Regions from separate parts of the Homo sapiens genome. Here region 1 is linked to region 2. Evidence: fine-mapped expression QTL. A gene starts in region 2. The other region holds a variant in brackets. All regions are shown on one strand. Distances are between the middles of the regions. Region 1 overlaps RAD54L (RAD54 like). Region 2 holds the start of LURAP1 (leucine rich adaptor protein 1).

The links. PIP is the estimated chance that this variant, and not a neighbour inherited with it, causes the effect.
Region 1: its variant is fine-mapped to the expression of LURAP1 in nasal epithelium (TOPMed, PIP 0.94).

The regions. Positions count from the first base shown.
Region 1 is chr1:46,251,882-46,262,256 of GRCh38, forward strand. It overlaps RAD54L (RAD54 like), which reads left to right. Exons shown (of 18, transcript NM_003579.4): 4 at 6,805-6,865; 5 at 8,083-8,218; 6 at 8,661-8,730; 7 at 8,846-9,134; 8 at 9,380-9,504. Among named protein-coding and RNA genes, the nearest start is that of RAD54L, 9.3 kb to the left of the region's middle. The variant A/G (reference allele first, on the strand shown) is at 4,836.
Region 2 is chr1:46,199,268-46,209,436 of GRCh38, forward strand. It overlaps LURAP1 (leucine rich adaptor protein 1), which reads left to right and starts at 4,067. Exons shown (of 2, transcript NM_001013615.3): 1 at 4,067-4,357. The coding sequence starts at 4,160. It also overlaps a transcript of POMGNT1 not described here. RefSeq lists a silencer at 3,988-4,107.

The sequences.
Region 1 (10,375 bases), 53 kb after region 2:
GCCTGGGTGACAGAGCGAGACCCCGTCTCAAAAGAAAGAAAATGGTGTTAAAATGGTGTGTAATCCTCTGGGACTGTTTCATTCAGGATTTGTTCAAAGTTGTCCTGTGTAACTACATGGCATAAGTGCAGTTGTGGGAGTGCACAACAGGAGACCTATGGGTCTGGAGATTGGGGAAGACCTGCCTCTGAGAGATGTGCTGTTAAGTCCTGAAAGATATGAGGGGTTAGACAGGTGAAGGGAGTGGAAAACATTCTAATAGAAGGAACAGCTTATTGGAAAGACTGGCAGCAATAGAGGCAGGTACTGAAAAGAGAGTGTGGGGAGTTGGGGGATGGTGGTGAGAGATGAGAGTTGGAGAGCTGTGCAGTGGCTAAGAGTGGAAGGCCTTTCAGAAGCCATGCTAGGAGAGTCTGGACTAAGGTCACTGAAGAGCTTTAGAAGTGTTTTAAGTGGGGGTAGGAGGTAACAGCAGTATAGAATATTTGTTGGATGGGGAGAGACTGGAGGTAGGGAAACTAGTGAGAAAGCTATTGCAGGTGGCCAAGCAAGAGAGGATTATGGCCTGGACATGGGTTTTAGGGGAATGGGGAATGGGAAGAAGTGGGTGGATTTTGAGAGATACTTAAAAATTACAAGTGGAAAAACTTGGGATTGATTACATGTGGGGAGAGGGAAAATTGAGGATGAAGTTGGGATTTTAGGCTTTGGCAAGGTAGATGGATGGTGGTGTCATTTGCTGAGATAGGGAACACAGAAGAAGAATGGCATTTGGTGGGAGGGAGATGGCAGGCACTGTAATCAGGAGGCCCATGAAGTTCAATGTATTATACAAGAGCTATTCTCTTTTAATAGCAAAGTTACAGGAATAGAACAGAAGATAGACAACATTAAAAATGTACTTGCAGGCCAGGTGTGGTGGCTCACACCTGTAATCCCAGCACTTTGGGAGGCTGAGGCAGGAGGATCACTTGAGCCCAGGAGTTTGAGACCAACTTGAACAACATAGTGAGACCCTATTTCTAAAAAACAATAAATAAATTGGCTGGATGTGGTTGCACGTGACTGTAGTCCCAGCTACTCTGGAGGCTGAGGTGGGAGGATCGTTTGAGCTGAGGAGGTCAAGGGTGCAGTGACCCGTGATACTGTCAGTGCACTCCACCCTGGGTGACAGAGACCCTGTCTCAAAAGGAAAAAAAATACTTGCGTATAGGAAAATTCAGAAAAGTATAGTTAATGGGTAGAATCTGCTGTATGATAAGAATGCTACTAACACTGTTTAGTTGCTGTCAATAAGAAATTGTATTTTAAAAAATCCATTGTCCAGAAGATATGAACAGGTTTGTTTATGGTTGTTATAAAATTGAAGTGCTGAAACTTGTTCACTGAAACATTTTGACTTGTATTAATGCTTTACATCCCTACATTTATATTAAGAATTCACACAAAAGGCCGGGCACGTTGGCTCACGCCTATAATCCCAACACTTTGGGAGGCCTAGGCGGGCGGATCACAAGGTCAGGAGATCGGAGATTGAGACCATCCTGGCTAACATGGTGAAACTCCATCTCTAGTAAAAAGTACAAAAAATTAGCTGGGTGTGGTGGCGGGCGCCTGTAGTCCTAGCTACTCGAGAGGCTGAGGAATGGCATGAACCCGGGAGGTGGAGCTTGCAGTGAGCCAAGATTGTGCCACTGCGCTCCAGCCTGGTGACAGAGCGAGACTCTGTCTAAAAAAAAAAAAGAATTCACACAAAAAATGAAAATGGAAAAACTGCAAACTGCAATACCGGATTTCTGTCCCCTATTTTTCTACTCACAGTGATATACTTAGGTACTCTTTTTTTTTTTTTTTTTTTTTGAGACAGAGTCTTGTGTTCTCACCCAGGCTGGAGTGCTGCAGTGGTGCTGTCTTGGCTCACCTGCTTACTTATCTCCATTCTCCTTCAGCTGGAGCTTGGTGAGCTAACACTGCACTTAGAGAGCGATGGTGATCTTTAATTCCTTTTGAAATCAGAAGAAAAAAAATACATAGTAATCCAGCCTGATTATATTATTATAGTTATCTTTATACCAATGCAGTCTTTTTTGTTTTTGTTTTTTCTTTTTTTTGATAGGGAGTCTTGCTCTGTCGCTCAGAATGGAGTGCGGTGGCGTGATCTTGGCGCACTGCAACCTCTGCCTCCCAGGTTCAGGCGATTCTCCTGCCTCAGCTTCCTGAGTAGCTGGGATTACAGGCACCCGCCACCATACCTGGCACATTTTTGTGTTTTTAGTAGAGACATGGTTTTACCATGTAGGCCAGGCTGGTCTTGAACTCTTGACCTTGAGTGATCTGCCTGCCTCAGCCTCCCAAAATGCTGGTATTACAGGTGTGAGCTGCTGCATCTGGCCTCTTTTTTTTTCTTTTTTTTTTCTTTTTTTAATGGAGGAAGGGGTCCCAAAGGCAAAAGTGCCTGGGGCCCACAAGAGTCATAGTGTGGCCTTGGAGATGAGGACTTCAGCCTTAGACATGATGATTTTGAAGTCCCTGCAGGAGATCTAGGTCTGGAGTCAGTTGTAAATGTGGATGTGGAGTAAGGTATAACTAGAAATACACCTGGGACTCATTAGCATAGATAAATTTTATACCTGGTAAGTGGATTGGTGAATGGGTAGTCAGAAGATCTGAGGGCTAAACCCTGAGCCCTGGGGAGCACTGACTTTTTTTTTTTTTTTTTTTTCCTGAGACAGGGTCTTGCTGTGTCACCCAGGCTGGAATGCACTGGTGCGATCACGGCTCACTGCAGCCTCAATCTTAGGCTCGGGTATTGCTGCCACCTCAGCCTCTGGAGTAGCTAGGACCACAGGCGTGTGCCACCAAACCTGGCTAATTTTTAAATGATATGTAGAGACCAGGTCTCACTGTGTTGCCCAGGCAGGTTTCAAACTCCTGGGTTCTAGCAATCCTCCTGTCTTGGCCTCCCAGAGTGCTGGGATTACAGACGTGAGTCACTGCAGCCGGTTGGGAGCATTGAGCTCTGGGGGTGGGTTGAGGGTTAAAAGGCAGAGGGAAAAGAGCTCATTAGGGGACTGAAGATGAGATCCCAGAAAGGTGGAGAGTAGTGTCATGGAAATCAAAGGCAGAAAATATTTGAGGAGTGGTCAGCTTCGTCAAGTAAGATACATGTCCATTGGAATTAGGGTCATGTAGGCCATTCGTGATCTTGGCCAGAGTGGAAGGGGCAGAAGACAGGAAGAGTGGGAGGAAAGAAGGGGAGCTATATAACTTACTAGAAGTTTGCCTGTGGAGAGGAGAGATAAGCAATCAAATGAATATTTGTTTTTAAGATAGGAGATAATTAAGTCCATTTTAAATGCTGGTAAGAGCTAGTAGAGAGGGAGAGGTTGAGATACAAGAGTGATCAGTCATAACAGAGTGATTCTCTGCAGAAATGGGAAGCTTTAGCCTTGGTGGGGAGGAGGGATGCTGTCTCTCATCTATCAGAAGGAAAGATTGGTATGAATTATCAGTAACTAAATGAACAGAGAATAAGAGCATGCTCCCTCCCCTGCCCCCTGCTATAGAGACTGGTGAGTCACCAAACCAGATCCCTGAAGGTTGGCCATTCCTTTTTTTTTTTTTTTTTTTTTTTTGAGACATAGTCTTGCTCTGTGACCCAGGCTGGAGTGCAGTGGCGCGATCTCGGCTCACTGCAGCCTCTGCCTCCCAGGTTCAAGTGATTCTTGTGCCTCAGCCTCCCAAGTAGCTGGAATTATAGGTGCCCGCCCCCACACCCAGCTCAGTTTTTTGTACTTTTAGCAGAGACGGGGTTTCACCATGTTGGCAAGGCAGATCTCGAACACCTGACCTCAGGTGACCTGCCCGCCTTGGCCTCCCAAAGTGCTGGGATTACAGGCGTGCACTGTGCCCAGCAGGCCATTCCATTTTGCAGGCTGAGCCCTCAGACATTTTTGGCCAGGGGTCTCCACATTCTTCCTTACCAGTTATGCAAGCCTGTAGTTCTCCCTGCAGAACCTATGGTTCCTGTGTTCTATTGAAAGTCTTTTTAAATTTAGGGCATAAATTCTTGGCTACTCAGAGCCTCAAATCTAGCCTTCTATACTGATAATTTTGAAAATATTTCTGTTTTAGAATTGATGCCAAATTAAAAAGAAAATTAGGGTCCATCTCCTTTTCCTCTCATTTGACTTAAGAGTAGCTTTTTTTTTTCCTTTGAGGCAGGTCTTGCTGTCACCCAGGCTGGAGTGCAGTGGTGTAGTTGTAGCTCACTGCAGCCTTGAACTCCTAGGCCAAGTGATCTTCCTGCCTCAGCCTTCTGAGTAGCTGGGACCATGTGCCACAGTGCCTGGGTAATTTTTAAATTTTGTGTACGGGGTGTGTGGGGGGGTCTCACTACGTTGCCTAGGGTGGTCTCAAAATCCTGGGCTTAAGCGGTCCTCCCACCTCAGCCTCCCAAAGCACTGGGGTTATAGGCATGAGCCACTGCACTGGCCAAGGGTCCTTTTTGTTAGCATTTTTCATAATGATTATCATTGCTATTCATAGTTACAGTCATGCTAATTAAAAATAGTAAAGGCTGGGCATAATGGCTCATGCCTATAATCCCAGCACTTTGGGAGGCCAAGGTGAGAAAGATCCCTTGAGCCAGGACTTAGAGAAAGATCCCTTGAGCCAGGACTTAGAGACTGCAGTGAGGTATGATCACCACTACTGTACTCCAGCCTGGGCGACAAAATGAGACCCTGTCTTTTAAAAAAAAAAAAAGTCAATAAAAGATTTTATTCAGATGCAAAGAAATTTGCAAATAAACAAAAGCATTTGAGTTTTTTGCC[A/G]ACTTTGCCTTTATGTTATGTTATTTAGTGTGATGTTGTCATGTTATTTAGTGTGATAAGGAAGTTCATTTCTACATACTTGTTTTCTGTCTTCTAATATCACAAAAAAAATTCATTACTTTTTTTAAATTTAAAGTACATTTGAGGCCAGGTGTGATGGCTCATGCCTATAATCCCAGCACTTTGGGAGGCCAAGGTGGACGGATCACTTGAGGGCAGGAGTTCAAGACCAGCCTGGCCAACATGGTGAAACCCTGTTTCTACTAAAAATATCAAAATTAGCTAGGTGTGGTGGCGTGTGCCTGTAGTCCCAGCTACTTGGGAGGCTGAGGCAGGAGAATTGCTTGAACCTGGGAGGTGGAGGTTGCAGTGAGCTGAGATTGTGCCATTGCACTCCAGCCTGGGCAACAGAGCAAGACTCCATCTCAAAAAAAAAAAAAAAAAAAACCCCAAAAAACAAATAAAGTACATTTGAATTTCTAGACATTGATGATGTGTGAAGAAATGAGTCAGAAAACAAAGGTAAAAATATCACGGCAGGCTTGCTTTTTTTCCTATTAGACTATGTTTTTTGCTAGAAGGGACATTTTTTCATTACTGCTTTTTCCACTAATATATTCCCATTAAAACTACCTTCAGGGTCTCTGCTCTTTATTTCTCTGCTCTCTTGGCTTCCACCTCTGGTTTTGTTGAGGTTCACAGGCTATCACAGTTCCGCAAAGGGCTCAGGTGTGTGTGGACCAGAACTTCCATGGGAGCTGTCAGAGTTAGCTCAGTGTTAATTTTTCTGCCTTCTCTGCCCCTGCCCCAGCCCCATAGCCCATGGAATAATGCTGGTTCAAGGCAGAAGTGCTTGTACAGAGGCTTCTTGCCTTTAGGTGGAGGAGTCACCAGTGCTACCTCTCTAGGACCCACATATGTCTACCTGCTGTCACCCTTGTCCCACTTGCTTTTTCTTAGTGTTGGGCTTAGCTTCTCTCTCATGTCCCTTTCTCATGTTCCTTCTCTTGTGCTTTACATGGCAGGAAGCTGCTGGGTCTGGGCTGATCTGCATGGCTGTACTCAGAGTGGGTGAGAGGCCACGTTGCCTACTGAGTACAAGTAAGGACCCTAGAACCAGGAAAGTCCTGCATTTGTAATGGCTTTGTGACTTGAGAAAGTGACTTAATCACTCTGAGCCTCAGTTTGCTCATTTGTAAAATGGAAACACCAGTAATATATGGACCTCATACAGCTGTTAGGATTAAATGGTAACATGAATGCAAGAGGCTTAGCTCTGTGTCTAGCATACATTGGTAGCCATCATTATTTTTATTTATATTTTTAAATATATATTTTTAAAATAGAGATGGGGTCTTGCTATATTGCCCAGGCTGGTCTCGAACTCCCAGACCTAAGTGATCCTCCTGCCTTGGCCTCCCAAAGTGTTAGGATTACAGGTGTGAGCCACCATGCCCGGCCTGGTGTTGTTAATATTATTTTATTAATACGATGGCTCCCATTTCTCCATCACTACTCTTTGATGAGCTGTTTAGTTCCCAAGGAGGCTGATGTGAGTATTAGATATATTAGACATAACTGATGTAGCCAAAAAAAAAAAAAAAAGAATTGTGAGGTGTGCTTGGGAAGGTGTAACCCTATATGACAGTGGTTAAACCCAGACATTAGAATTATCCATTATTACTCAGGTTGGCTAAGTCTGTGGTATTTGCTTTCCAAGGTGCTATACCCTAGGGAAGAGCTAGGTATGCTCACTGGCATGGTTTTTAATGAGTGAATGGTTTCCTGGGTTCTAAGCCTCGTGGTTGACTGAGGCTGGGCCCTTCTGCTATCCCTGGATATTTGTAGAACCTTACATAAAGCCTCGAAGATGGATGCTGTTGTACAAAACCTAATGTGAAGCATATCATGATATTGTCCCATAACATCTCCAGTCAGTCCTGAATCCTTGTTTCTCCTTTCTTTTTAGGAAGCATTTATTCGAAGCATTTTGTCAAAGCCTTTCAAAGTCCCCATTCCAAATTATCAAGGTAAAATGGAGGTTTTTCTGTTTTTGAAATCAGTCATATGTACGTGTGCCTGAATAAATTAAAAACCTGCTTTTGTAAATACAAGCTTAGCTGGGAATTGAAGGTGCCAGTCCAGCGGTGGCTGTGTTTGGGGTGACCCTCCTGAGGCCTGCATGAAAACTGTGTTAGCCTCAGTAAGGGCTGCCAAGACTAACTGCCCCTCATCTTCTTGGTAGAGGTGTCCCGGTGCTCAGAAAGCTCCTGGTGGGCCAAGATGGCTGATGGACCTGGGCTTCATTCAATCCAAGTGCATTCAGTAGCATCCCTTTTATGAGGCTGACTGTGTGGGAGGCCTGGATTCTATAAGGTTTTTCCCTGTCTTATGTAGGGTACAGCATTATGCTAAAACTGGGGCTTGGAGGAATAGGGAGGCCAGCTTTCTCTCTCTCTCTTTTTTTTTTTTTAATTTAATAGAGATAGGATTTCACTATGTTGGCCAGGCTGATCTCGAACTCCTGGGCTCAAGCGATCCTCCCACCTCGACCTCTCAAAAAGTGTTGGGACTACAGGCTTGAGATACTACGCTTGGCTGTGGCCAGCTCTCAGGAGCTCTCAGAAAGCTCCATGAAAGTGCCCTTTAGAATTTCAGGCCTTCCCAGGATTGTCTTGAGTTGAAATGAACCAGATCTGGCACCTCAGAAGTTTGTAATTGAATGGGAGAAATAAAACGGGAAAAGCTCTGATTCAAAGCAGAAAAATTCTGGGGGCTGGGCATCGTGGCTCACGCCTGTAATACCAGCACTTTGGGAGGCCAAGGCGGGCAGATCACCAGAGGTCAGGAGTTCAAGACCAGCCTGGACAACATGGTGAAACCCTGTCTCTACTAAAAAAAATACAAAAATTAGCTGGGTGTGGTGGTGGGAGCCTATAATCCCAGCTTCTTGGGAGGCTGAGGCAGGAGAATTGCTTGAACCTGGGAGGCAGAGGTTGCAGTGAGCCGAGATTGTGCCACTGCACTCCAGCCTGGGCAACAAAGTGAGACTCCATCTCAAAAAAAAAAAAAAGCTGAATGGGATAATGGTCATATAGAGATGCCCAAACTGAGTTTGGAGGCATTCTCAGAGAGAGAGGGTCATATGGGAGCTCGGGAAAGGTTATGTGAAGGACAAGTATTTGAGCTGGGCTTGCTGGAGCTCCTAAACATAGATTCAGGTGACGGAATGATTATTGGTTTGTAGGTCCTCTGGGCTCTCGAGCATTGGGCCTGAAAAGGGCTGGGGTCCGCCGGGCCCTCCATGACCCCCTGGAAAAAGATGCCTTGGTTCTGTATGAGCCTCCCCCGCTGAGCGCTCATGACCAGCTGAAGCTTGACAAGTATGTGCACTGGTATTTCATAAGCAGTTTTGGTTCTCTGTATATGCACGCATACTTGGGAGGGCAGAGGGTATTTTGGTGTGATTTCTTTTTAGGATTGACATATGTTTTCAGAGAGTAGATGATTGGGGAAGGAGACTGCCTGGGGAAGAGCCTGTGGTCATGTCCAGTGAGTGGGCATTCCTCATCCCCTCCTGCCTTCCCAGGATGCTCACTCAGGAGGAGGAGTGATTGAGGTGATGACACAGGGAACCCATCCCTCTCTGAGCTAACTTTCTAACTCCTAAAGTAGGAACTTGCTATGGTTTTACGATTTATCAGCCAAGAAGGTCTTCTTTTAGGCAGCTGCCTCTGTTGCCTCCGGATCAGCAGGACACAGCTTCCTGAGGGTGCTCCCTTGCCCATGTCTGAGCACGCTGTTTTCTTTGCTGTGTTTTCTCAGGGAGAAACTCCCTGTCCATGTGGTTGTTGACCCTATTCTCAGTAAGGTTTTGCGGCCTCATCAGAGAGAGGTAAATGAGGGTGAGGGGAACGAGGTATGGGCTATGGGCTGAGCCTGGGAGACTACCATCCCTGGGACAGCAGCAGCGTAGGTGCCAAAGTGGACTGAAGGCTGTTATTCTCTAGGGAGTGAAATTCCTGTGGGAGTGTGTCACCAGTCGGCGCATCCCTGGCAGCCATGGCTGCATCATGGCTGATGAGATGGGCCTAGGAAAGACGCTGCAGTGCATCACATTGATGTGGACACTTTTACGCCAGAGTCCAGAGTGCAAGCCAGAAATTGACAAGGCAGTGGTGGTGTCGCCTTCCAGCCTGGTGAAGAACTGGTACAATGAGGTTGGGAAATGGCTCGGAGGGAGGATCCAACCTCTGGCCATCGATGGAGGATCTAAGGATGAAATAGACCAAAAGCTGGGTACGGAGCCCTAACAAAGATGGCTGCACTCTCCTGCACAGCCTGCTGCTTTCTTACGTGTATGCTCATTTATGGCCAGGGTGGAGGGCAATGCAGGGGTAGAAGAAAAGAGAATTTCCATTGAAAATAGTTGAAGTGGAGTCAGTTGTTTCCAGGCTAAATTAAAGAACTGTCTAATTGTTTTTTTTGTTTTTTTTTTTTTCAAAAGATTCTGAATTGTTCCCTTTACACCTTTTCTGTTGTAGAAGGATTCATGAACCAGCGTGGAGCCAGGGTGTCTTCTCCCATCCTCATCATTTCCTATGAGACCTTCCGCCTTCATGTTGGAGTCCTCCAGAAAGGAAGTGTTGGTCTGGTCATATGTGACGAGGTACTTGACTCTCAGCAGTCTGGGTGGTAGGAGAAAATCTGTCAAAATCTCTTCACTGAGTATTGCCTTCCAAGGGCTGTGCTAGTCACTGGGGAATGCTGAAGACAGGATGCTGCCTTGGAGACAAGTGACAGGGAGAGCCTGTGATACCAAAATACAAGATACTGTCTGCCAAAAGAGGGCTGAAACAATGCTTAGAACCCTGAGGAGAGTGAGATACTGGGGGCTGATTGGCTTTGTTGCCTCCGGATAGTATTCCTAGACTAAAGAAGGACCTTGAAGGGTGGGTGGCAATGTTTAGAGGATATAAATCAGAAAGTGTCTGAGACAAGTCTCAATTTAGAGATTTATTTTGCCAAGGTTGAGGATGCTCTGGGGAAAAAGAGACACAAGCCAAAGTAGGATCTGTAGCCTGTACTTTTTCCAAAGAGGTTTTTGAGGACTTCAATATTTAAAGGGGGGCTGGCCACGATGATTCACGCCTGTAATCCCAGCACTTTTTGAGAGGCTGAGGTGAGTGGATCACTTGAGCCCAGGAGTTTGGGACCAGCCTGGGCAATATGGTGAAACCCCACCTCTACTTAAAAAAGATAAAAATAGTCAGGTTTGGTGGTGCACCTGTAGTCCCAGCTACTCAGGAGGCTGAGGTGGGAGAATCAGCTGAGCCCGGGAAGTAAGCTGAGATTGCGCCACTGCACTCCATCCTGGGTGATGGGGTGTGAAACCCTGTCTCAAAACACACATATGACCGGGCGCGGTGGCTCACACCTGTAATCCCAGCACTTTGGGAGGCTGAGGCGGGCGGATCATGCGGTCAGGAGTTTGAGACCAGCCAAGATGGTGAAACCGTGTCTCTACTAAAACTACAAAA
Region 2 (10,169 bases):
AGATAAAGAAATAAGACCTAATATCACAAAGCTAGGAGAGGTGGAATTGAAACTCAGCCTAGCTCCAGATTCTGCTCTTAACCACTGCACTCTGCTGGCAACAATACATAAGAATTGCCAGGTTTAAATAACATCATACATAGAAAGCAGTTAGCTTAACACAATGGTTCTCAAACTTTAGCTTGCGTCAGAATCACCTGGATGACTTCTTAAAACAGAGGTGCTGGGCCCCATCCCTAGAGTTTTAGATTCAGTGGTCTGGGGCAGGGTGGGATTTTGCATTCCTGAGAAGTTTCTAGGTGATGTTGATGCTTGTTTGAAGTGGATAGCCATAGAACAGTTTTAGGCAGGGGAGCAATATAATCCAATTTCTGTTTTAAGAGAACCTTTACTTTTTTTGTGGAGAATGGGTTGGAAGCAGACAGAGGAAGCCAGAAGACCAGTTAGATTTTTTTGAGCTTTCTGTATTCCATCTGCTTCCTGAATGGTGGGGTAATATCCCCCAAAATGAAATGTTAACAGTACTTGTCTTAGGAGTTAAAGAAATACATGATTTTTCCTAGTAAGTATGTATAAGAATGGAAGAAAACCCAACACATTTTATTACATTTGAAAAGATGTCCCGGCTGGGCACCATGACTCACGTAATCCCAGCAGGTTGGGAGGCCGAGGTGGGGTGGTCAGTTGAGGTCAGGAGTTTGAGACCAGCCTGCCCAACGCGGTGAAACCCCGTCTCTACTAAAAATACAAAAGTTAGCTGGGCGTGGTGACAGGCGCCTATAATCGTAGCTACTCAGGAGGCTGAAGCAGGAGAATCGCTTGAACCTGGGAGACAGAAGTTGCAGTTGAGATTGCACCACTGCACTCCAGCCTGAGTGACAGAGCAAGACTCCGTCTCAAAAAATAAAAAAATAAAAATAAATAATTAAAAGATGTCCCTCAGGGTTCCTTCCTGACCCTCTTTTCTCCTCAAACTGACTCTTCATGGATGATCTCATTCTCTCATGACCTCTGTTACCAATCTAGATGCCCAAACTGACATTGGCAGTTCTAACCTCTTTCCTGAGCTCCAGGCTGCCTGATGTCCAGCAGGACATCTTCACAGGCCCCTCTAACGCAACAGCACAACTTCTGGAATCATTTCCTTTCACTCCTAGATTTCCTGTGGGTTCCCCTCCTCAGTGAACTGCACCAGGCCAAACAGCTGGGAGTCACCCTTGACTCCTTGTCTGTCTCCAGTGACCAGTCCAGGTATGTCTTGCTCACCATTGTATTCTCTACACCACACACAAAGGCTGGCACATAGTAAGCTCTCCGTAACATTTGTTGAAATCATTCATTTGTATTTTTTAACAAATTTTTATTGAATGCCACTATAAATGAATGTAACCAGTCACCTAGTCCTGTCAGTCTTACCTCCTAAAGAGCCTTCCATTCTAGTCTAATTCTTCTTTGACCTCACAATCAGCCCCAGTGCAGGCCATTTCAGTTTCTTGCTTTCCAGCCAGTCTCCTTGACTCTAGATTTTTACTCCTCCTATCCTTTTCTCCTTGCAAAATCCAGAGTGATTTTCTTTAAGGCAAATGTTGCCGGGTTCGGTGGCTCATGCCTGTAATCCCGGCACTTTGGGAGGCCAAGGCGGGTGGATCACCTGAGGCGGATGGATCCGCCTGGCCAACATGGTGAAACCCCGTCTCTACTAAAAATACAAGAATTAGCTGGGTGTTGTGGCAGGTGCCTGTAATTCCAGTTACTCAGGAGGCTGAGGCAGGAGAATGGCTTGAACCTGGGAGGCAGAAGTTGCAATGAGCCAAGATGGTGCCACTGCACTCCAGCCTGGGCAACAGAGCCGGACTCTGTCTCAAAAAAAAAAGACAAATGTTTTGTCTATCTCTAACTTAAAACCCTTCCATGGATCAAAAAGTACCAAGGAAAATGATGTTACTTAAAATTATAAAGGTAGGCCAGGCATGGTGGCTCATGCCTGTAATCCCAGCACTTTGGGAGGCTAAGGTGGGAGGATTGCTTGAGGCCAGGAGTTCGAGACCAGCCTGGGCAACATAGCGAGACTCTATCTAAATTTTAAAAAAAGTTAATTACAAAGGTAACCTTAGATGAACTAAAAAGAGTGATAGAAATATGTAGTGCCAGGCCGGGCGCAGTGGCTCACACCTGTAATCCCAGCACTTTGGGAGGCTGAGGCAGGCAGATCACGAGGTCAAGAGTTCGAGACCAGCCTGACCAACATGGTGAAACCCCCGTCTCTACTAAAAATACAAAAATTAGTCGGGCATGGTGGCACGTGCCTGTAATCCCAGCTACTCAGGAGGCTGAGGCAGGAGAATCGCTTGAACCCAGGAGGGCAGGTTGCAGTGAGTCAAGATCGTGCCACTGCACTCCAGCCTGGGCGACAGAGTGAGACTCCATCTCAAAAAAAAAAAAAAAAAGAAAAAAGAAAGAAAAGAAAAGAAATATATATTGCCAATGGGGGAAAGGAACTACAGAGTGTGAGTTAAACCCATATATCCATATTTATCTGAATAGGACAATAAACAGCAGATGAATGTTTAAAATTGAGAAGTAGTGTGGCTGGGCATGGTGGCATACTCCTGTAGTCACAGCTGCTTGGGAGGCAGGAGGATTGCTTGAGCCCAGGAGTTTGAGTCCAGCCTGGGCAATGTAGGAAGACCCTGTCTCTAAAAAAGAAAAAATAGTGGTAGGATTTACAATAAGAGGATAGTTACTCCTACCCTACCCTTTCACACCTCTAGGCCCACTCCCAATTGGCAACCACTTTTAGTTAACTCTAAACAATAACGTTATGGGTATGAACACCAAAAGAAAAAAAAAAACTAAAAGTTATTTTTTGCCAATTGGGAGTGGGCCTAGAGGTGTGAAAGGGTAGGGTAGGGGTAACTATCTTCTCATTGTAAATCCTTCTGCAACCATGGGCTGGAATTACTTGAATTAAAAGCCTAAACAAACCAGAGTTTTCATGGCTGTTCATTACCTGTTAAATAAAACCCAAACATCTCAGAACCATTTTCTGTAACCTTGTTACTCAAAGTGTGGTCCCTTATTACTTGAAGTGTGGACCAGCAGCATGGCCATCACCTGGGAGCTTATTAGAAATGCAGGATCTTGGCTGGGCGCAGTGGCTCACACCTGTAATCCCAGCACTTTGGGAGGCCAAGGCAGGCGGATCACTTGAAGTCAGGAGTTCAAGACCAGCCTGGCCAACATGGTGAAACCCTGTCTCTACTAAAAATACAAAAATATTAGCTGGGCATGGTGGCGCATGCCTGTAATCCCAGCTACTCAGGAGGCAGAGGCAGGAGAATTGCTTGAACCCAGGGAGGCAGAGGTTTGTAGTGAGCCAAGATCGCGCCACCACGCTACATCCTGGGCGACAGAGCGAGACTCTGTCTCAAAAAAAAAAAAAAAAAAAAAAAAAAAATGCAGGATCTCAAGCCCCACCCCAGATTTACAAAATCAGAACCTACATTTTAACAAGATCCGCAGATAATTCATACGCACAGTCAAGCTTAAGGAGCATCTTGCTTGTAAGCCCAACGTGGACCTCTTCAGCTTCAGTACTGGTTGCCCTTTTCTACTCCGTTAGCCTGAATTCTAGCCCCTGGGGGGGGGGGGTGGTGTGTGTGTGTGTGTGTGTGTGTGTGTGTGTGTGTGTCTAGCTAAAATCCAGTCATCGTTTTATACCCAATTCCTCTGCTCCAGGAAGACTTCCAAGCCCTCTGCAGCTCTCTGTTACCGCTGTTCCTTAAACTCCCACATCTCTGACTGAAGCTGCTTAGACTTCATTCTGCAAACATGTATTGGGCGCCTGCTGTGTGCCTGGCTGGATTCAGTGCCAGGGTGGGGCGAAGGCGCTGAGGTCTCCGAGTGCTCTTTCAGGTCCAACTCCAGAATCGCCCAGCCCCACGCAATCCAGGGCCAGAGGTTGTGTGCGCAGCACTCGAATACATCCACAGACGGTGCTGCGCGGCTTTTCTGAGTGTTACGGCGCCCTCCTCCCGCCCCCGCGCCGCGCGGGCGGGGACCCACCGGTTTTGCTCCGCTTTAGCAGCGGCGAAGGGAGGACCCCCGGGAGCCGGTCCCCGGCGTCCGGTCGCCCAGCCCTTTTCAGGCTTGGGCCCGCATGGAGGGGACCGTGGAGTCCCAGACGCCTGACCTGCGGGATGTGGAGGGTAAGGTGGGCAGGAAGACCCCTGAAGGGCTGCTCCGCGGGCTGCGAGGCGAGTGTGAGCTGGGAACCTCTGGCGCCCTGCTGCTCCCAGGGGCGTCTAGCACCGGCCACGACTTGGGGGACAAGATCATGGCGCTGAAGATGGAGCTGGTGAGTGCTGAATCCATGGGCCAAGGGGACGAGTCCCTAGTGTAGGGCCGGGAGGGACGAACTCATGCTCCCAGAGTTAAGCTGGAGAGGAGGTAGTTAAAACTCTCCACCTAACTGCTCAGAATCCCTCCCAGATCAATCCGTAAACGCTGGGGTGGAGATGGAGTGACGTCCATTACTTGTCCCCCAAGAGTGAGTGGGGTGTTGATGGTCCTGAGGACTTGGGTTGGGAGCAGTGGGTTTTGGAAGTTATTCCTGCCAAATAATTGGGAGGAGAGAGATGAGGACTGGGAAGTACTGAGAACCCAACGCAGCACAAATTCCCCCCGCCTGTATGGGCCACCTATTCCCCGCCAGTCCCCGTTGTAAGGCAACCGGTTTTTTCTCCTTCTGCTAACCGGGAAAGGGTTTAAGTTCCTGTGAGGCCGCAGTGTTCCGCACAGAAAAGAAGTGGGTAAAGGGGCCTATCTGCTGAAAACTACCTGGACCAGGGGCACTGAAAACCTTCTCCGTTTCCTCTACATCCCCCAGCCCTACTTAAAATAATGGAAAGTTCCTAGACCCATAGCAGGGACAGAGAGTAGCAGCACCACTGGTGCTGATTCCCTCGCCTCAGACTCAGTCTCCTCCCAGCCAGTCTTCCAGGTAAACTGGATATTTGGATCTCATCTGTACATTCTTGGGGAGAAGAGGAAACAGCAACCCTCCCCTTTCTCTATTGCTGCTGGTCTAGATTCAGAGCCAAAAGGGCAGCCGAGGCCCTGGCAGGTTCCCCAGGGCCCTGATTCCGGTGAAGTGGGTGATTTACACCTGCCACTACTTTGCAGCCAGTTCTGGGGAACTGAGGAATTGCCATCGGCTTCCTGGCTCACAACCAGGAGCCCACAGTGAGTACGTCAGCTAAAGTCTTCCTGTGTGCCCAGCCTGTGCCAAGCTGGTCTGTGAAGGAGAAGGGGAAGGAAATCATGGGGGCTCTGAGACCAGCCAGGGCTCCGACGCCTGAGCTGAGAGGCTGGGAAGAGAGTCTGGTGGGTGGAGCAGTCAGGAAAGGCCCCCTGGGAGAAGGACTTGAATGCCAAGTGTGCACTTGGCCTTGAAGGTTGGAGGTGAGTGCCCAATTCTCCAGAGCAAGGCTGTGACTGTACCCACCTAAGCGGGGGCTTGCCTTTGCCTCACTGTACAAACTTTAGCTCAAGGCCTAGTAAGAGCCTATCTAGACTGTCTACTTGCTTTGAAAACTTTCACCCAGTGCATGTGCCAGGCAGCTTGCTGAGCACTTTACATGATGCTCTCTTCATCTCCACAGTAACCCTGTTAAGTGATATTTTATAGATGGAGAAACTGAGGCACAGGGTGGGCATGGTGGCTCACGCCTGTAATCCCAGCACTTTGGGAGGCCGAGGCAGGCAGATCGCTTGAGCCCAGGAGTTTGAGACCAGCCTGGGCAACAAAGCAAGACCCTGTCTCTACAAAAAATACAAAAATTAGATGGGTGTTGTGGTGTGTGCCTGTAGTCCTAGCTACTCTGGAGGCAGAGGCAGGAGGATCACTTGAGCCCAGGAAGAGGAGGTTGCAGTGAGCTGAAATCGCACCACTGCACTCCAGCCTGGGTGACAGAGCTCAGAGCTAGACCCTGTCTCAAAAAAAGAAGGGGAAGAAGGGGAGGAAGGGAGGAAGGGAGGGAGGGAGGAGAAAAGAAAAGAAAACAGAGGCACAGGGAGTTTAATAACTGCCCAACATCACGCAAAAAGCAGGGCCATGATTTGAACCCAGATCATCTGACTGCACTTTGCATCTTTACTTTGAGACCTGCTTTGTGCCAGATAGTCTGAACATTTTATGTCATTGAAATGAGAAAACTGGTCATCATTTCTCCCATCTTACAGATAAAACGTGCTTGCAGATTCTGAACTCACATAGGGAGTCAGTGGAAGAGCCACGCCCAGTCTCTGGCTCTCTTCTCTGCCTTGGTGGAAACTATCTGTAAACTTTAAGGGGCTGCATTTAACTTTTGATTTTGTCTCTCTGTATTCTTGACCCAGCTTGCCTGGGGCCTGAGGCTGCCCGAGAAAGGGCACAAGGGAGGGAGCCTTCTGGGGCCAGAATGAGGAGAGATCCCCATCCTATTTTTTCTCCTTCCTCAGGCCAGGATGTTATTAATATTAATCTCTTCTTGTGCTCTGCCCTGCCTACTGGGTTGCACCCAGGAAGGACAAGGGGTGGGGCAAGGGATTTGCCTTCGGGCTACTGAAGGCAGGACTGGTTCAAGCCCTCTAAGGACTGTCCTTCAATTGTTCCTCTCCCAGCTCTCCTTGCACAAAGGGGGAAGGCCTACCCTTGAGGCCAAGGTCAGTCCTGCCTCTAGGCCTCGTCCCTCCTGCTTTCTTCCTCTACCCTCCATTCAAAGGTTGAGTGAACAAGCCAGACTGGGATATGTGGGAATGGGAAACAGTGGCAACTTCTTCTTAGTTCTCCCACCCAAAGAACTGTTGCTATGACAACCCACCTCCACAGAGGCAGTTTGAGAAAAAGCTTTAGGCAAGGAAGAATGCACGGGTTCAAGTCTTGGCTCTGCTTCTGAAACGTTTTGTGGTCTTGAGCAGCACTCTGTCTCTCTCCTGGCCTCAGTTTTTCCTCCTTTTGGTGGAGGGGGTAGAGGGAGATGGGGACTGTGAAACCAGATGATTGTTAAGAACCTTTATAGTAACAATATTCTGATAGTCCCCGCTCTGGGAGCTCGGACTGGGATTTCCAGGCTTTTACCCTAGGGCCTGATTTATATTGAGCAATGAGGAAACCATACAGGACCCCAGCGCTGGGCAGAGAGTCTGGTATGTAGATGTTAAGGAGAGGAGTAGGGAGCCTGAATCTCCTTGGAAGGAGAATTGGGTTTGGAGTCGCCTCTGAGGCTGCATCTCTCCTGAGCTGTTTATCCTATACTCTATTTTCTTCAAGAGATGGTGTGAAAAGAGTGTTTCTTTTTCTGGCAAGAAAACCTTGCTTTCTTCTATTCTGGGAGTGATGCTGTCACAGTCAGGGAATCCCACTGCCACAGGATTATAGAATCTGCTCTCAGATTTATTTCCCAGCAACACACTACAACCCAGACCCCTGAATCCTGGGAACCATCAAAGGGGTCAAGGATAGTAAAGGCAAGAGAATCACAGAACTGAATGTGACCTCCTTAGCACTGGGCCAAGCACCAGAAATGGATTGGGCAGGATCTGCTCTCAGGGAGCTCACAGTCTGGTTAGGGAAGGAGGAGACAGAAGAACATTTCTAGTACAGGATGATAAGTGCTGGTAGAACCCAGGAAGGGCCTCCTGGAAGAGTCTTCACTGTAGAGTGATGTGGTTGGGTTTGTGCTCTAGAAAGTCGATTTCAAATTGGAAGGAGGCACAGGCTGTTTCCTCTGCTTGAAATGCTTCTCTCCACCTCTTTGTCTGGCTGAGTCCTTCTATTTTTTTTTTTTTGACACAGGGTTTCACTCCCATCACCCAGGCTGGAGTGCAATGGTACAATGTCGGTTCACTGCAACCTCTGCCTTCCAAGCTCAAGCGGTTCTCCTGCCTCAGCTTCCTGAGTAGCTGGGACTATGGGCATGTGCCACCACACCTAGCTAGCTTTTGTATTTTTAGTAGAGACGGGATTTTGCCATGTTGGCCAGGCTGGTTTCGAAGTCCTGACCTCAAGTGATCTTCTGCCTCAGCCTCCCAAAGTGCTGGGATTACAGGTGTGAGCCACTGCGCCCATCCTAGCTGAGTCCTTCTTAACCTTAAATTTTCAGCTCATGTCCCTTATCCTAGGAAGCATTTCCTGACCTGGTTAGGTTATGGCCCTCTAGGTATCTACAGTCCTCTGTATAGCAGTTGTTTCCACTAGCGTTTGCCACACTGAACTTTTCTTTCTTTCTTTCTTTCTTTTTTTTTTTTGAGATGGAGTCTCGCTCTGTCGCCCAGGCTGGAGTGCAGTGGTGCGATCTCGGCTCACTGCAAGCTCCGCCTCCTGGGTTCAGCCCATTCTCCTGCCTCAGCCTCCCGAGTAGCTGGGACTACAGGCACCTGCAAACACACCCAGCTAATTTTTTGTATTTTTAGTAGAGACGGGGTTTCACCATGTTAGCCAGGATGGTCTCGATCTCCTGACCTCGTGATCTGCCTGCCTCGGCCTCCCAAAGTGCTGGGATTACAGGCATGAGCCACTGCACCTGGCCTGAACTTTTCATTTTTAAATTATTTATTTATTATCATTATTTTTTTTGACACGGAGTTTCGTTCTTGGCGTCCAGGCTGGAGTGCAATGGCGTGATCTCGGCTCACTGCAACCTCTGCCTCCCGGGTTCAAGCGATTCTCCTGCCTCAGCTTCCTGAGTAGCTGGGATTACAGGCACCCGCCTAGTTAATTTTTGTATTTTTAGTAGAGATGGGGTTTCACCACGTTGGCCAGGCTGGTCTTGAACTCCTGGCCTCAAGTGATCTGCCTGCTTTGGCCTCCCAAAGTGCTGGGATTACAGGTGTGAGCCACCCCACCAGCCTTATTTATTTTTTTAATAGAGACAGGGTCTTGCTATGTTGCCCAGGCCAGTCTCAAACTCCTGGCCTCAAGCAGTCCGTTTGTGTCAGCCTCCCGAAGTTCTGGGATTGCAGGCTGAGCCACAATGCCAAGCCAACCACACTGAATTTTAAGTGCTTGCTTCATTGTCTTATCTTACCCACTAGATTATGAACCTTCTGAAGGTAAGAAATGATGCCTTTTCTTTCTTCATCGAACATAGTGCCACACCAATAAGAAACAATAAATATTGGTTCCATAACTGAATGGATTAATTCCATCTCGAGGAAGGGCAAGGAAGACTTCCTCGAGGAGGTGACATTTGAGCTGGGGCTTGAAGAATGAATAAAGTCAGTGGGAATTCCAGTTCAAGATACCAGATTGAGGGCCGGCACGGTGGCTCATGCCTGTAATCCCAGCATTTTGGGAGGCCGAGGCGGGCGGATCACCTGAGGTCAGGAGTTCGAGACCAGCCTGACCAACATGGTGAAACCCCATCTCTACTAAAAATACAAAAATTAGCTGGACGTGGTGGTGCACCTGTAATCCCAGCTACTAGGGAAGCTGAGGCAGGAAAATCGCTTGAACCCTGGAGGCGGAGGTTGCAATGAGCCAAGATCGTGCCACTGCACTCCAGCCTGGACGACTGTGCAAAACTCTGTCTCAAAAAGAGAAAAATAAATAAATAAAATAAATAAAAGGCATGAAGCCGTTATGACAATGAGAATAAGAGACAAGGTAATAGGAACAAAATTTTGGAAACTGAAATTCAGAAGGAAGAGTGGTAACTAACTCAGACCTAAAAAATGCTCAGTCCCGAGCCAGCAGTGGGGAAAGCTGAAAAGCAACACTTTTTTATTTTGTGGGGGATAGAGTTTTGCTCTTGTTGCCCAGGCTGGAGTGCAATGGCGCAATCTTGGCTCACCGCAACCTCCGCCTCCTGGATTCAAGCAATTCTCCTGCCTCAGCTTCCCAAGTAGCTGGGATTACAGGCATGTGACACCATGCCCAGCTAATTTTGTATTTTTCGTAGAGATGGGGTTGCTCCATGTTGGTCAGGCTGGTCTCGAACTCCCGAACTCAGGTGATCCATCCGCCTTGGCCTCCCAAAGTGCTGGGATTACAGAGCCACCGCCCCCTGCCAAAGCAACACATTTTATACTGCAAAAACCCTTAAAGGTCTTAGGGGTTGGAAGCACCAGGTATTTCTGGAACTGGGGGCACAAGTGGGGCTGAAAACAAAAGGGCTGGTTGAATGTTT